Regions from separate parts of the Homo sapiens genome. Here region 2 is linked to region 1. A link means that fine-mapping ties the variant in region 1 to the expression of a gene that starts in the linked region. Tissue or cell type: unexposed skin. Region 1 holds a variant in brackets; the other region holds the start of a gene. All regions are shown on one strand. Distances are from middle to middle.

The links. PIP is the estimated chance that this variant, and not a neighbour inherited with it, causes the effect.
Region 2: it holds the start of THBD, and the variant in region 1 is fine-mapped to the expression of THBD in unexposed skin (GTEx, PIP above 0.99). The same link has a PIP of 0.9 or more in esophagus mucosa and sun-exposed skin.

Annotation. Positions count from the first base shown.
Region 1 is chr20:23,093,323-23,101,425 of GRCh38, reverse strand. No RefSeq gene overlaps it. Among named protein-coding and RNA genes, the nearest start is that of CD93, 11 kb to the right of the region's middle. RefSeq lists an enhancer at 5,138-5,287. The variant C/A (reference allele first, on the strand shown) is at 4,240.
Region 2 is chr20:23,045,150-23,053,252 of GRCh38, reverse strand. THBD (thrombomodulin) reads left to right here and starts at 3,581. Exons shown (of 1, transcript NM_000361.3): 1 at 3,581-7,620. The coding sequence starts at 3,749. The coding sequence ends at 5,476.

The sequences.
Region 1 (8,103 bases):
GATTATTGCATAAATGGAAGCATACAACATGAACCTCTGGTTATGGCTGCCCCACTCAGCATAATTCTCTGGAGACGCATCCAGGTAGATGTGTGGATCAATCTATTACTTTGTATTACTGAGTAGTATTTCAGAGTATGGATGAGCCACTTTCAACCATTTACCTGTGGAAGGATAATTGGGTTGCTTCTAGGTTTTGGCTATTGTGAATACAGTTGTCATAGACACTCATGCACAGATGTTTGCATGAACATGGAATTAATACAGCAAAGCCTGACCAAGAGAGGGCAAAGGACTTTGGCTGCAGATTCCCGTTTCTGTCAGGCTCCATTTCTGGAGGCACATCAGGTCAAAAAGGAACATAAACTCCTTCAGTGGATGCTCCTCCTCATGTCCCTACTCTTTCTACTCCAGGTATAAGTTAGGGTCCTAGCTCCTCCATCACTCCTGGCTCCTCCCTCATCACTCCTAGCTCCCCCATCACTACTGGCTCCCCATCACTCCTGGCTCCTCCCTCATCACTCCTGGTTCCCCCAACACTCCTGGCTCCTCCCCCATCACTCCTGGCTCCTCCCCCATCACTTCTGGCTCCCCCATCACTACTGGCTCCCCATCACTCCTGGCTCCTTGTTCACTCATGGCTCTTTCAACCCTCCTTGCTTCTTCAACATCAGTCTTCCAGGTTTGAGCTTGGCAAGGCATCAGCTTGCCTAACAGCTGAGAAAACTGCCGTTACTCATCTCACATGAAACTGTGGAAGGACCTGTCTTGCAGGTTGGTAAGAGGATTAAGGGGACAGGGTAAGGGAAAGCGTTTAGAACTCCTAGTTCCCATACATGCCCATACATGCATGCTTTGCTCAGAATGCTTTGGGCTCAGCCCAAGGCCCTGTACTCCACAGTACACAGAGATCCAGGGAAATGCAAGCTGACAGGAAAGCAGCCTCCGTGAAAGATGCAGCTGTGCTCATCCGTGAGCGCAGCTCCACTCAGTGCATGTGTGTGGATTCGTCAGAAAGCACCAGGCCCTGTGTTATTGCTGAGCAGACAATAAGGTCCACGAGACGCAGCCCCTGGCTTCAAGAAGCTGGTAGTGTAGTTAAATGACCTAAAGAAGAAATATCCTTTAGGTTGCAGTCACTCAATAACTCTTAACTCTTCTGCACAGAAGTCTGGGCTGGGGGTCCAGGGCCATTCAGGCCTCCCTGAAGTCCCCTGCAGTGCCTGTGCTGTTACTGTCCTATGCTGGGGATCTGGTGTGCACAGCACAGTGTACAGGCAAAGCTGAGGCTTGCTCTCCCTGCACAAGGCGGGTGGTGAAGCATTGGCTGTATGTGGCAGAGAAGCTGCAGTTTCTAGATCTTCAGGCATGCTGGCCAAATGCTGACACTTGGGGAAATAAAGCTAGTTAGAACATCTGGGACTCTTCTATTTGGCCTTGGGGAAAGGAACAAGGAACAGTGAAGATTCACGCTGTGACATCAATATTCATGCTAGCAAGCTCTCCACCTCTCACTTCCCAACCTCAGTGCTTCTCAGAGCTGGTGTAAGAATCACCTGTGTGTGTGTGTGTGTGTGTGTGTGTGCGCGTGCGCCTCACCCACAGCAAGTCTGATATAGTTGGTCCAGAATGGGGCTTGGTACTATGGTTTGTCCCCCACCCCAGGTGATTCCCATGTATGGCTGGGATCAAGTAGTTACTGATCACTTGCTCCCTATAGCAGGCACTAGGGAGCCAGCAATAGACAAGAGGGATGAGTTTCCAGCTCTGACTGTCTCACAGTTTACTGTTGGGAGATCAATTTCACATATACAAAGTTACCACTATGCTCAGTTCTGGGAGGAAGAGGAGCAAGGTTGAGAGGTTTGCAGTGAGAGCATGTAACCAGGAGGCTGAATCTACAGTGGGGAGATGGGCAAAGCTCCCCAAGGCCTAATGCAGTTAAAAGAGTTCATCAGTCACTCAGTCTGCATGCATGTTCACACACGTGTGTGCGTGTGTGTGTATTGGCCTTGTGGAAGGACTGGGTGGCCCACAGAACTGTGGCTGGGGAATGTGGACATGAAAATAGGAAGGATCCGCTGGGCACGGTGGCTTACGCCTGTAATCCCAGCACTTTGGGAGGCTGAGGTGGGCAGATCACAAGGTCCAGATATCAAGACCATCCTGGCCAACATGGTGAAACCCTGTCTCTACTAAAAATACAAAAATTAGCTGGGCGTGGTGGCGTGTGCCTGTAGTCCCTGCTACTCGGGAGGCTGAGGCAGGAGAATAACTTGAACCCAGGAGGCGAAGGTTGCAGTGAGCTGACATCGCGTCACTGCACTCCAACCTGGTGACAGAGCGGGACTCTGTCTCAAAAAAAATTAAAAAAAGAAAAAAGAAAACAAGAAGGACCAAAGTCCCAGGGCTAACAGGGCCGTGTTAGAAATCTGATTTTTGGCCTGGCGCAGCGGCTCATGCCTGTAATCCCAGCATTTTGGGAGGCTGAGGTGGGCGGATCACTTGAGGTCAGGAGTTTGAGACCAGCCTGACCAATATGGTGAAATGCCATCTCTACTAAAAATAGAAAAAATTAGCTGGGCATGGTAGTACATGCTTGTAATCTCAGCTACTTGGGAGGCTGAGGCAGGAGAATCGCTTGAACCCAAGAGGCGGAGGTTGCAGTGAGCCGAGATCGTGCCACTCCAGCCTGAGCAACAGAGTGAGACTGCCTCAAAAAAAAAAAAAAATCTGATTTTTATCCTATGATCAATGGCAAGCCCCAGCAGCATTTCACTGTGGTGTGTGTGCTTATGGGAAAACAAATGATCAGGCTTCTATTTCAACATGATCTCACCTTACAGCATGGAGCATAGGGGATGAGGCTGGAGCCAGGGGCTGGTCAGGACACCAGTGCTGTGCCCACCCATGTGAGAGGCGGTGGAGGTGGGGCATGGGCGGGGAAAAAGAGGACTGGCCCAGGGCATGGAGCCAGATCATCCCTAGAGGCTGGGAAGGTGGGAGGAAGGATGCCGCCTGCACGTCGTGGATCACTGGACGGATGGTGGACTGGGGGAGGAAGTGGGAGTAGTTTGGGTCTTGGTGACTCTGAGATGTTCTGGGAAATAGTGGACAGCTGGGTGCTCTGATTGGGAGATGAAAGGACAGGCCTGATGTGGACAGGCACATCTGTGAGGCCGCGAGATGGGGCAGTAGGAGACATGTGGGGAGTGGATGCAACCGAGCAGCGGTGAGTTGGGCAGGAGAGAGACAGGGCCCAGGAGGGAACCCTGTGGAGGCCAGAGCAGGGAAGAGGCCCAGGGAATGTGGACCACCTGGTGCCCACACACTGGACACTTCCAGGAGGGATGCCTGAGGGTCAGGGAGCAGAGGACTGATGGGGCCCATGTGGTTGGCCTGCAGAGGTCAGAGGAGGCCGACGTGAAAGCAGCCCCAGGACACCAGAGAGGCAGAAAGGACAGCCATGAATGAAGAAGTGGGCAGATGGAAAGCAGTGGGGGTGAATGCACGTGCTGAGAGCCTGGCTGCAGCAGGAGGAGAGAACTGGGCTGTGCTGGCCTGGACCTCAGCTTTGCCAGATCCTTGCACGGGTCCAGGAGCCTCCTCCATGACCCGTGCAAGGATCTGGCAAAGCTGAGGCTGGACCTGGCCTGTGGCTGAGCTCCCCTGCCCTGGGCTGAGGAGAGCATTAGTTTGAGTGAAGTGCCTACTGTATCTGTTTCTTTAGGAATCAGGTTGCTGTATTACAGGGAGATGTCGACAGTAACCCTCAACCAGAGCAGGGCTGCTTTCCAGCTGCCCCCATATCCTTGATGCTTTTATTTGGTATACGAGTTGTGCAGTTTCCTAATACTACTGTGGTTCTGTAGCCCCTCCAACCTGCCCATCACTTGAGACTGAGTTGAATGGAAATGTGTTTTATAATCTTCTGTGCAATAAATTGGTTTTGCAGTGTGGCAACCCAACTCGTGAAAGTGCTTATCATTTTCAATTATAATTTTTTAGCTCAGAGATAAATTATTAAAGCACAGCAAAATTGTTCCTGAAGATAACATGCTCACATGGTAATTACTCAGGTAAAATGCTGGTAGTCCCCGGGCATTCTGGCTTTGCCTTTCTTAGGAAACCATGCAGAACTATCTCTGTATGACGCAGCAGTGTCACGTTTTATCCTGAGTAGGCAAAAGATGCAGCCTGCTCCCATTGTGGGTCTGAAACAGCTTCTGCAAGTTGGAG[C/A]CTGAAGTGACCCAGTATCTCACCCTGCATTTGCCGCCCACTTTGTTCCCACGGGAAACAGGAAGGTGAGGGTGCCAGTGCATGGGTGTAGATGCCAGGTTTCCCGACTGCTCCAGCGTGTCTGCCTTGCCCTGGCCATGCCATCTACTGCTGCTCGCTTCATTGGACCCCAACGTACGGTGCTAGCTGTTGGAGTATGAACAACCAGAAAAATAAAGGCCAGTCTTCCCCAGGTATGGTTGTCAGCTGTTCTGAGCCACCACCTGGAATATCTGCAGGTGGAAGTAGCCACTGAGCTGCTTCCCTCAGTGTCAGTGCCCGCGAAGGAAGGCTACTCTTTCACCAGAAACAGTTCAGCTAGAAGACTCTTCTGTCTTCCAATATGAGTGGGTGGGAGTGTGGGAGAGCAGAATTTGGCCCTAGAACTGTTGTGTAGATATGAATCTGATTCAGCAAACAGACCAAAGCTCTGCAGGCCTGAGAGGGGCTTCAGGGCCTCTGGGTCAGCTCTTGTGTCAAAGAATGAAATTTTTAGGACTCAGAAGTCTGGAGAAAATGCTTTTGGCTGCAAGTAACAACCAAAGTATAACTGCTCAAACAATTAAGAATGAGAATAATTTCATATAAGAAGTCTCAGGTGGGATCATTTCAGGTTTGGTGAATCCCACAGTTCCAGGAGGCTTTTGGGGACCCGAGCTCCTGCCCTCTTTTTGCCACCTTTCTGAGCCAGCTTGTCCTGACCACAGCAGCTTTGCACACCAGCCCTCAGAAGATCACTCAGAGGACAGGCTGGCCATTTCTCCAGTCTCTGTTTAAGAGCAAGGGGGACTTTCCCAGAAGCATATGGAACTTTCCCTTATGCCACATGGGCCAGTCTGTGTCCCTCCTGAGCCAGGTCCCTCCTGAGCCAGGTGTCAGCTGGGGACAGAAATGTCATCATTGCTCAGATCTGTCAGGGTTGTCCCCTGAATAGGGGAGTCTCCCAGCACGTCCCAACGCTTACTAGCATCAGGTGCACAGTGGAGCTGGTCTTAAGAAGAATAAGGGAGAGTAACAGTTGTAGAGTCTTCAAGAATTCATAAGATGTTACAATTAGAAGGACCCTCCCTGCTTTATAAAGAGGAGAGATGTCCAATATTTTGGCTTCCCTGGGTCACACTGGAAGAAGAATTATCTTGGGCCACACATAAAATACACTAACACTAACGATAGTGATGAGCTAAAAAAAAATCACCAAAAAAATCTCATAGTGTTTTGAGAAAGTTTATGAATTTGTGTTGGACTGCATTCAAAGCCATCCTGGGCCTCATGGGCCCTTGAGCTGTAGGTTGGACAAGCTTGGTATAGGGAGAATCCTGGATAGTTCCCAGCTAACTTTCATTTGAAGAACTGTCATGACTTTCGATAGAAGATGCATAGGCTATTGTGTTATAGGTATTTAGTGATGTTGAGGCTCCCAGGGCTGCAGGAGCCAGCCTGGCGGCACTAAGGAGGAAGCTAATGCAGGCACTGATTGCCACGTTGGGCTGGTTGCCAGCATTGCAAGACACTTTGATTTTTTTTTTTTTTTAGAAAAGCCAGAAATGCAAATCTTTCTGTAAAATCTCACATTTCTTAAATATGCACAATTCACTGAAATATTTAAAACACTGTGTGGGTCTAATAGTAAATGATGAAGAGCTGGACCCAACCTGGGAGCCAGCAGCTGACCTCGTCCCGATGAAGAGACTGGTGTCTGGAAGCTGTCCTGAGGCTTTGCCTTTACTTTCTCCAATGACCAGGCACAGCATCCAGCTTGGGAGACACAAGATGTTCCAGCGGAGGCCTTGAAGAGCACTGCCATATTGTCCCGCACTGGGCTCAGGTCACTTTCCAACTTTTACCTTCTAGAAGGAACTGGAATGGAGGGACGAGATGAACCAGGGCTCTCAGGGGCAGTAGACAGGATTGTGTCCTGCACAGAGGAGTGCTTTTCTTACAATGCTAGAGAGAGGTAGGGCGTGCACAGTGTGATTCATAGTTTCGAGGAAAACCAGACAACATTCAGAACTTCTATGGGAAATGAAGCTGGATGATGAAATGTAGCCACTGGTAAAATAAAAGCAGGCAAAGAAACCCCACTATGGGCAGACAGATACATATACGGGCACCTTCATCAGTGGAACAGGCCAGAAGTGGGGGCGTGGGTGGACGCTTATTGGGTGAACAGCTTTCCGTGCTAGGATCTGGCATGGAAACATCAACCACGCCTTTGTGTATTGGGGGATCCAGTCGTGATTTGAATGCCTAACTAGGAAGGGCTCTTCTCTGTCATTTCACCAGGGGCAGACTGGGCATGTGCCCTACCCATGCTCCTTGCTCCCCACTATTTTAGTGCACGGGGACCTGATGTCACAGCCAGCACCTACCTGGGGGCTTTCTCTGGCTGCTGGGGCCATGAGACAGCCATGTTCCTCCCCTCCTGCTGGTCCCCCCACTTCCTAAGAAACAGATATATCCGGACTGAGAAACGAGGCAGGTATACACAAAGGCAAGCTATTTGTCATTTTCGACAAAAAGGATATCAAAAAGCAACTTCGCTTATTTTCAAAATGACTGAATCAAACCCAATTCTGTCAGCTCATTCTTTATGAGATGTCAAAACCCGAGCACGCTTCATCCACGTGTCCAGTGAGGAAACACCATAATCGGGGCGGCATCATGGGCTGCATTCTCAGCTTGCCCTGCTCCTCTCCTTCTCTGCCCGGACTGGCTCTCACAGATGGATGACAAAGAGCCCTGGAGAGTGGAATTACTCGGCTGAAGCCACAGAACATGGGCCAGCAGTGAGAGCAGAATTCAGATGGTATTGTATCTAAAACACAGGACTTGGCTTCTCACAGTTCAGGACAACAGGGAGAATTCCAGGTTTCTGTGGAGCGATTGAATCCTACCATCAGGGCACACAGGGAGCTCCACAGACAGCTCCCTGCAGAGAGGCAGACTCTGCTTTGCTGATGGCTCTGAATGCTTCTGGCTCCCCTCCAAAGGGGTCCCAGCTTATGCCCAGCTGGCATGTCTGTGCTTTGGAGGTCAAGGCATATGAGCCCACAGACTGGCATATTTGAGTGAGGGTTACAGAGGTAGTGCACCTGCCGTGTCCTTTATCTGCACCCCAGCAAGGAGGGTTAGGTCATCAAAGCTGGGAAGTGTTCTTGCAGGGGAGCTGCCTTGTGCCCACTGGGAGATGGCAAGCCCTGAATGCCTCAGACCAACTTGAATGGCTCTGGGACCCAGCAGCGGGGATGATAGATTGGCATAAAGATGCATGGACAATTGACCACATGGTGCTGAAACCTTCGGGCAACACCTTGATACCAGGATCCCATGGCAGGTAGGGAAAGCTCTCAGTGCTCAGGTCCTGGTGCTGGGCATGAAAACACACACATGCCACCCTGAGCCCTACACACGTTGCCTGGATTCTTGGATTAGAGCCACTGTCTCTCTCCTCTGATGATGTCTCTCCAGCAGCCTTTCTTCTCTGTGTGCAGGTGGGGTCTATCCAGCATTGCTTCATCTCTGGGTCTTTGCAAGGGTGCGGGGACCTAGGACATGCTAGACATTTCTTCCTTCTGGAGGGTTCCTGGTGACTTCCCTGCCAGAGAATCACCTAGGGCAAAAATAATAACCATAAATCATTAGAACTGTTATTCAGTAAATGTGAGATTGTATTCATACCACTAATCGTGGAACCACAGACTTACCACCTACTATGCCAAGCGCTTTACTGAGTCATCTCATTTAATCCTCATGGCTCTGTGGATGTGACACCATTTACATGTAAGGAAACTGAAGCCCAGAGAGGAACGGTGTTTGCCCAGGGGC
Region 2 (8,103 bases), 48 kb after region 1:
CCAAATTCCAGCATAGCCCCTTGAGTGCAAATTTTCTCATCTGTGGCCACAGAGTAGAGGCACTATCGCGAGCATCTTCAGTGCGGAGGGGAAAGAGTATGGGCTCTCCCAGCGGGTGGGAGCAGCACTGAGGGAGTATGAGGATCAGAGTAGCCTCAGCCACGGTGGAGAGCTGGAGAGATAAGCAGCAAGGAAAAGAGCTGGGGACCCAACTGTCTCAGCATAAATTGAGAAGGCAGGAGCAGTGATCAGGGGAAACAAGACACAAAAACTAGGCAGTGGATGAAGGAGAGCAGAAAGTCAAAGGCAAGTGCATGGTTTAAAACCTCAGTGGACCAACTATTGATACTGGGAAAGATGGGGTAAGGGTCCCTTCTAGAATACTCCCTCCCCAATCTCCTTGGACACTGCTATCACTGCCAGGGGAATGGGTAAGTTCACCAAAAGGTGGGTTGTAAAGAGATGATGAAGACCACCAGCAAAACCTTGAGAATGGCCACTCTAGTGGGTGGTACAAGAGGATCCCAGGGGCCTCCCCAAGGCTCACAGGAGAGGAAGGGAGGAAAACATGTGTCTCAAAAGTAATTGGAGGAGGAGCCTTGAGAATGGTGAAGGGTCACAAGTGCAAATGGCACCAAGGCTTCTAGAAGGATGGCTGAAAACAAGATTTTGGCAACAGTATTTAGGACCAGATGGGTGTTCTTCAAGGGAGCTGTTTCAGGAGTAAAGCAAGTCTGCTGGTGGGCCAGAGTGAGGGTGCTGGGCCAGGAACTGGGCCAAGCATTGGGAAGTGGATGTGTTATCTGCAAAGGGATAGGAAGGAGTGGCCCACCCTGGTGTGCAGGGGGCACAGATAGGAAGATAGGGATGGGGCAAGAACACAGACAGGGGACCTTCAGTCACCAGAAGGTAGTCTAAAATATGCAAAGCCTCCAAGGTATTGGCTGGAGAGGAAAAACAAAGCGGCTGAGGGCAGGCCCCACAAGGCAAAGGTATCCTGAGGGTCAGGGGTAAAGCCCTTACAGGTGGGAAAGCCAAGTGGGTCATGTCCACCCATCCTTGTGTAGGGCAACCCAGACACTGTGGTACCCCCCATGGGACAATGCTCTGCTTCTATCTGTTGTTGCTCTAGTTTCTTTCTAATACAGAAACATCCAACATCTGCACCTCCTCATATAGGGTTGATCCAAGTTTCACAGACATCACTGAGTTCTTAGTGGACTCAGCTATTGGGGCTGTTCTCACACTTTTTTTTTCTTTGCAAGAATCAGCAATGGGTGCAAGTGGACCTGTGTAGGACGTCCAGTGAAACATTGTGTTGGTGAATCAGCTAGAATCCATCCAAGAACTCAGCCAGCCTGGTGTGGGGTGAGATCTGATCCTTGAATGTCCCTCAGTGGCTTTTAGGGCTGGCAGGTTCAGAAGGGCCCTCTCATCACCCCCCCAGGGCCTCATTCCTTGTTTAACACTTTGCTATCACAGTCTTGAATCCTTGTAATTGAACAATGGACCCCACATTTTCACTTTGCACTGGTTTCTGATTCTGTAACCGATCCTGTCCCCCTCTCTTGTCTCATTCACTCTGGGAATTGTCCCCACATTCTGAGACCTTTCAGCAGTGCCCCAACGAGGTTCCTGCCCTTATCTGAAGCTCCACCCTCACCCCCATGGCGGCACCGCAGGCAGCCCTGCTTTTGCGTCCCGCGTAGGCAGGCTGTGCACCGGAGTCACGACCCCCTGATTCAGCCTAGGCAGCCACAGCTTGACTGCTCCCGCCGGACAAGCCCTACTGTGCTATCTGCCGCTCTTCCCTTCCTCTTCCCAGGGGGTCCGCGTCAGGGGAGGCGCAGCTGTGTGCATTCCGGGAGCTTCAGACCCCCGTGTCCAGCAGCTCCTTCGTTTCCTGGGTGCTGGGGCGGCCTTCCCAGCGAAGAGCTCAACTCAGCGGGACGTTTGGAGGCTCTCTGCCCCAAGGCGCTGGGGAGTGTGCGGCGGGACAGTCGTGCTTGCCTTTTTCACTTTCAGAGTGTCCACGCCCCACCCGTTTGGTCACTGCAGGTCAGTCCAGTCCAGCCCGGCCCACCCCACCGGTGCGTGTCTGTCGCACGTGGCAGACGCCATACTCTCTGTTCTTGTTTAAAGCCCAGGATCTACTGGGCCCTGGAGGCAAGAGGTGAACGCAGCGGAATCCACGCTGAGCTGCCCGGGAACGGAGCTTCCAACCCCAGAAGGAGGACTCTGTGCTCCTACACCTTAACCCTTTTTAGCCCGAAACTTCTCCAACTTCCTTGGCTTTGTTTAGAGCTCGACAGCGCCGCCCCCTGGCGCTCGTTGTGAGGACAGTAGAGGAGAGAGGCAAGGGTGTTTTTAAACAGTTTGCCTCTCACCATTATGGGGGCGACCCGAGGGGGAGACCCACTCTTCCGCATTCCCGGTAAGTGAACCACCGGAAGAGGTCGAAAGTGACGGATTCCCATGTCCTCCTCCAGCCCCCCCCCCACCCTGCCCATCCACAGGACGGTGGCTCTTCAGTGCCCTTTGCCGAGCAAGTGGCGTTTCTATGCACGTGGGTATCAATTCGGACTCTGGACGAAATGGAAACCTCCTTAGCCGACCCGGGTGGGATCAGCTGGGATCCTGCGCGCTCCCCTGGGGGGTTGCCAGCCACTCTGTTGGGGTGCAAGAAGCACCATCCTTCGGAAGCTGGGCCGAAACTGGCCAGGCTGACTCGCTCCCACGCGCCCGCCCCTACCCGGCGCCGCAGCAATTCACCTGCCACCGCCTCTGAGCCGGGTCCGGACTTCGGCGCCCTGACAGTGTCCCCGCGACTTCCCCACCCGATGAGATGGGGTCTGGCGTTGGCCAGTGCGTGTCCAGGGACTCGCGGGTCCCTGGCCAGCCATGGGGCAGAGGGCGCTGGTGTTAGGCCAGTCTTCCCCACCCTGCCCCGTCACCCCAGCCACACCCACTGTCCTGTGAGGCCAAGCGCGCTCCGCTGGTTTCCTGAGCCAGGCACCTTGGCCGCGGACAGGATCCAGCTGTCTCTCCTTGCGATCCTGTCTTCGGGGAAGTCCACGTCCTAGGCAGGTCCTCCCAAAGTGCCCTTGGTGCCGATCACCCCTCCCAGCGTCTTGCAGGTCCTGTGCACCACCTCCCCCACTCCCCATTCAAAGCCCTCTTCTCTGAAGTCTCCGGTTCCCAGAGCTCTTGCAATCCAGGCTTTCCTTGGAAGTGGCTGTAACATGTATGAAAAGAAAGAAAGGAGGACCAAGAGATGAAAGAGGGCTGCACGCGTGGGGGCCCGAGTGGTGGGCGGGGACAGTCGTCTTGTTACAGGGGTGCTGGCCTTCCCTGGCGCCTGCCCCTGTCGGCCCCGCCCGAGAACCTCCCTGCGCCAGGGCAGGGTTTACTCATCCCGGCGAGGTGATCCCATGCGCGAGGGCGGGCGCAAGGGCGGCCAGAGAACCCAGCAATCCGAGTATGCGGCATCAGCCCTTCCCACCAGGCACTTCCTTCCTTTTCCCGAACGTCCAGGGAGGGAGGGCCGGGCACTTATAAACTCGAGCCCTGGCCGATCCGCATGTCAGAGGCTGCCTCGCAGGGGCTGCGCGCAGCGGCAAGAAGTGTCTGGGCTGGGACGGACAGGAGAGGCTGTCGCCATCGGCGTCCTGTGCCCCTCTGCTCCGGCACGGCCCTGTCGCAGTGCCCGCGCTTTCCCCGGCGCCTGCACGCGGCGCGCCTGGGTAACATGCTTGGGGTCCTGGTCCTTGGCGCGCTGGCCCTGGCCGGCCTGGGGTTCCCCGCACCCGCAGAGCCGCAGCCGGGTGGCAGCCAGTGCGTCGAGCACGACTGCTTCGCGCTCTACCCGGGCCCCGCGACCTTCCTCAATGCCAGTCAGATCTGCGACGGACTGCGGGGCCACCTAATGACAGTGCGCTCCTCGGTGGCTGCCGATGTCATTTCCTTGCTACTGAACGGCGACGGCGGCGTTGGCCGCCGGCGCCTCTGGATCGGCCTGCAGCTGCCACCCGGCTGCGGCGACCCCAAGCGCCTCGGGCCCCTGCGCGGCTTCCAGTGGGTTACGGGAGACAACAACACCAGCTATAGCAGGTGGGCACGGCTCGACCTCAATGGGGCTCCCCTCTGCGGCCCGTTGTGCGTCGCTGTCTCCGCTGCTGAGGCCACTGTGCCCAGCGAGCCGATCTGGGAGGAGCAGCAGTGCGAAGTGAAGGCCGATGGCTTCCTCTGCGAGTTCCACTTCCCAGCCACCTGCAGGCCACTGGCTGTGGAGCCCGGCGCCGCGGCTGCCGCCGTCTCGATCACCTACGGCACCCCGTTCGCGGCCCGCGGAGCGGACTTCCAGGCGCTGCCGGTGGGCAGCTCCGCCGCGGTGGCTCCCCTCGGCTTACAGCTAATGTGCACCGCGCCGCCCGGAGCGGTCCAGGGGCACTGGGCCAGGGAGGCGCCGGGCGCTTGGGACTGCAGCGTGGAGAACGGCGGCTGCGAGCACGCGTGCAATGCGATCCCTGGGGCTCCCCGCTGCCAGTGCCCAGCCGGCGCCGCCCTGCAGGCAGACGGGCGCTCCTGCACCGCATCCGCGACGCAGTCCTGCAACGACCTCTGCGAGCACTTCTGCGTTCCCAACCCCGACCAGCCGGGCTCCTACTCGTGCATGTGCGAGACCGGCTACCGGCTGGCGGCCGACCAACACCGGTGCGAGGACGTGGATGACTGCATACTGGAGCCCAGTCCGTGTCCGCAGCGCTGTGTCAACACACAGGGTGGCTTCGAGTGCCACTGCTACCCTAACTACGACCTGGTGGACGGCGAGTGTGTGGAGCCCGTGGACCCGTGCTTCAGAGCCAACTGCGAGTACCAGTGCCAGCCCCTGAACCAAACTAGCTACCTCTGCGTCTGCGCCGAGGGCTTCGCGCCCATTCCCCACGAGCCGCACAGGTGCCAGATGTTTTGCAACCAGACTGCCTGTCCAGCCGACTGCGACCCCAACACCCAGGCTAGCTGTGAGTGCCCTGAAGGCTACATCCTGGACGACGGTTTCATCTGCACGGACATCGACGAGTGCGAAAACGGCGGCTTCTGCTCCGGGGTGTGCCACAACCTCCCCGGTACCTTCGAGTGCATCTGCGGGCCCGACTCGGCCCTTGCCCGCCACATTGGCACCGACTGTGACTCCGGCAAGGTGGACGGTGGCGACAGCGGCTCTGGCGAGCCCCCGCCCAGCCCGACGCCCGGCTCCACCTTGACTCCTCCGGCCGTGGGGCTCGTGCATTCGGGCTTGCTCATAGGCATCTCCATCGCGAGCCTGTGCCTGGTGGTGGCGCTTTTGGCGCTCCTCTGCCACCTGCGCAAGAAGCAGGGCGCCGCCAGGGCCAAGATGGAGTACAAGTGCGCGGCCCCTTCCAAGGAGGTAGTGCTGCAGCACGTGCGGACCGAGCGGACGCCGCAGAGACTCTGAGCGGCCTCCGTCCAGGAGCCTGGCTCCGTCCAGGAGCCTGTGCCTCCTCACCCCCAGCTTTGCTACCAAAGCACCTTAGCTGGCATTACAGCTGGAGAAGACCCTCCCCGCACCCCCCAAGCTGTTTTCTTCTATTCCATGGCTAACTGGCGAGGGGGTGATTAGAGGGAGGAGAATGAGCCTCGGCCTCTTCCGTGACGTCACTGGACCACTGGGCAATGATGGCAATTTTGTAACGAAGACACAGACTGCGATTTGTCCCAGGTCCTCACTACCGGGCGCAGGAGGGTGAGCGTTATTGGTCGGCAGCCTTCTGGGCAGACCTTGACCTCGTGGGCTAGGGATGACTAAAATATTTATTTTTTTTAAGTATTTAGGTTTTTGTTTGTTTCCTTTGTTCTTACCTGTATGTCTCCAGTATCCACTTTGCACAGCTCTCCGGTCTCTCTCTCTCTACAAACTCCCACTTGTCATGTGACAGGTAAACTATCTTGGTGAATTTTTTTTTCCTAGCCCTCTCACATTTATGAAGCAAGCCCCACTTATTCCCCATTCTTCCTAGTTTTCTCCTCCCAGGAACTGGGCCAACTCACCTGAGTCACCCTACCTGTGCCTGACCCTACTTCTTTTGCTCTTAGCTGTCTGCTCAGACAGAACCCCTACATGAAACAGAAACAAAAACACTAAAAATAAAAATGGCCATTTGCTTTTTCACCAGATTTGCTAATTTATCCTGAAATTTCAGATTCCCAGAGCAAAATAATTTTAAACAAAGGTTGAGATGTAAAAGGTATTAAATTGATGTTGCTGGACTGTCATAGAAATTACACCCAAAGAGGTATTTATCTTTACTTTTAAACAGTGAGCCTGAATTTTGTTGCTGTTTTGATTTGTACTGAAAAATGGTAATTGTTGCTAATCTTCTTATGCAATTTCCTTTTTTGTTATTATTACTTATTTTTGACAGTGTTGAAAATGTTCAGAAGGTTGCTCTAGATTGAGAGAAGAGACAAACACCTCCCAGGAGACAGTTCAAGAAAGCTTCAAACTGCATGATTCATGCCAATTAGCAATTGACTGTCACTGTTCCTTGTCACTGGTAGACCAAAATAAAACCAGCTCTACTGGTCTTGTGGAATTGGGAGCTTGGGAATGGATCCTGGAGGATGCCCAATTAGGGCCTAGCCTTAATCAGGTCCTCAGAGAATTTCTACCATTTCAGAGAGGCCTTTTGGAATGTGGCCCCTGAACAAGAATTGGAAGCTGCCCTGCCCATGGGAGCTGGTTAGAAATGCAGAATCCTAGGCTCCACCCCATCCAGTTCATGAGAATCTATATTTAACAAGATCTGCAGGGGGTGTGTCTGCTCAGTAATTTGAGGACAACCATTCCAGACTGCTTCCAATTTTCTGGAATACATGAAATATAGATCAGTTATAAGTAGCAGGCCAAGTCAGGCCCTTATTTTCAAGAAACTGAGGAATTTTCTTTGTGTAGCTTTGCTCTTTGGTAGAAAAGGCTAGGTACACAGCTCTAGACACTGCCACACAGGGTCTGCAAGGTCTTTGGTTCAGCTAAGCTAGGAATGAAATCCTGCTTCAGTGTATGGAAATAAATGTATCATAGAAATGTAACTTTTGTAAGACAAAGGTTTTCCTCTTCTATTTTGTAAACTCAAAATATTTGTACATAGTTATTTATTTATTGGAGATAATCTAGAACACAGGCAAAATCCTTGCTTATGACATCACTTGTACAAAATAAACAAATAACAATGTGCTCTCGGGTTGTGTGTCTGTTCACTTTTCCTCCCTCAGTGCCCTCATTTTATGTCATTAAATGGGGCTCACAAACCATGCAAATGCTATGAGATGCATGGAGGGCTGCCCTGTACCCCAGCACTTGTGTTGTCTGGTGGTGGCACCATCTCTGATTTTCAAAGCTTTTTCCAGAGGCTATTATTTTCACTGTAGAATGATTTCATGCTATCTCTGTGTGCACAAATATTTATTTTCTTTCTGTAACCATAACAACTTCATATATGAGGACTTGTGTCTCTGTGCTTTTAAATGCATAAATGCATTATAGGATCATTTGTTGGAATGAATTAAATAAACCCTTCCTGGGGCATCTGGCGAATCCCAGCTGTGTGTCCGGTGTATGGTTTGGCATTATCTCCTCTGCGAGATATCCAAATTCACTGTAGTCATGAAGGGTCTCAGTTTGTGGCTCTCATTCAAATATTCATTTCTAAACGTCTCATCCAGTATGAAATCATTCTCATCTCTTTTGGAGATTAACAACATCATCTTTTCAATGCACACGTTTCTTGGGCTCACTTTTCTAAGGTGGTAGGGCTGGCTGAATGCAATATGCAGGGCTCGGAAAGATTTTTTAAAGAAGAAATTAAAAGCAAGTAGAGTCCAGGCAAATATTCAGATGCTTTATATGTCTGGATAATGCTGAACTCATGAGTTTTAGTTTGACTGATTATTGTGAAGACCGGGTTGGAGATTTTGACATCCATCGCAGAAGAAGTAATGGCTTTAGTGTGTGTGTGTGTGTGCTGGGGAAGCTCCATGCACAGTGCCCTATGGAGATAACAAGCTGAGCCATGCTCCCCCTAA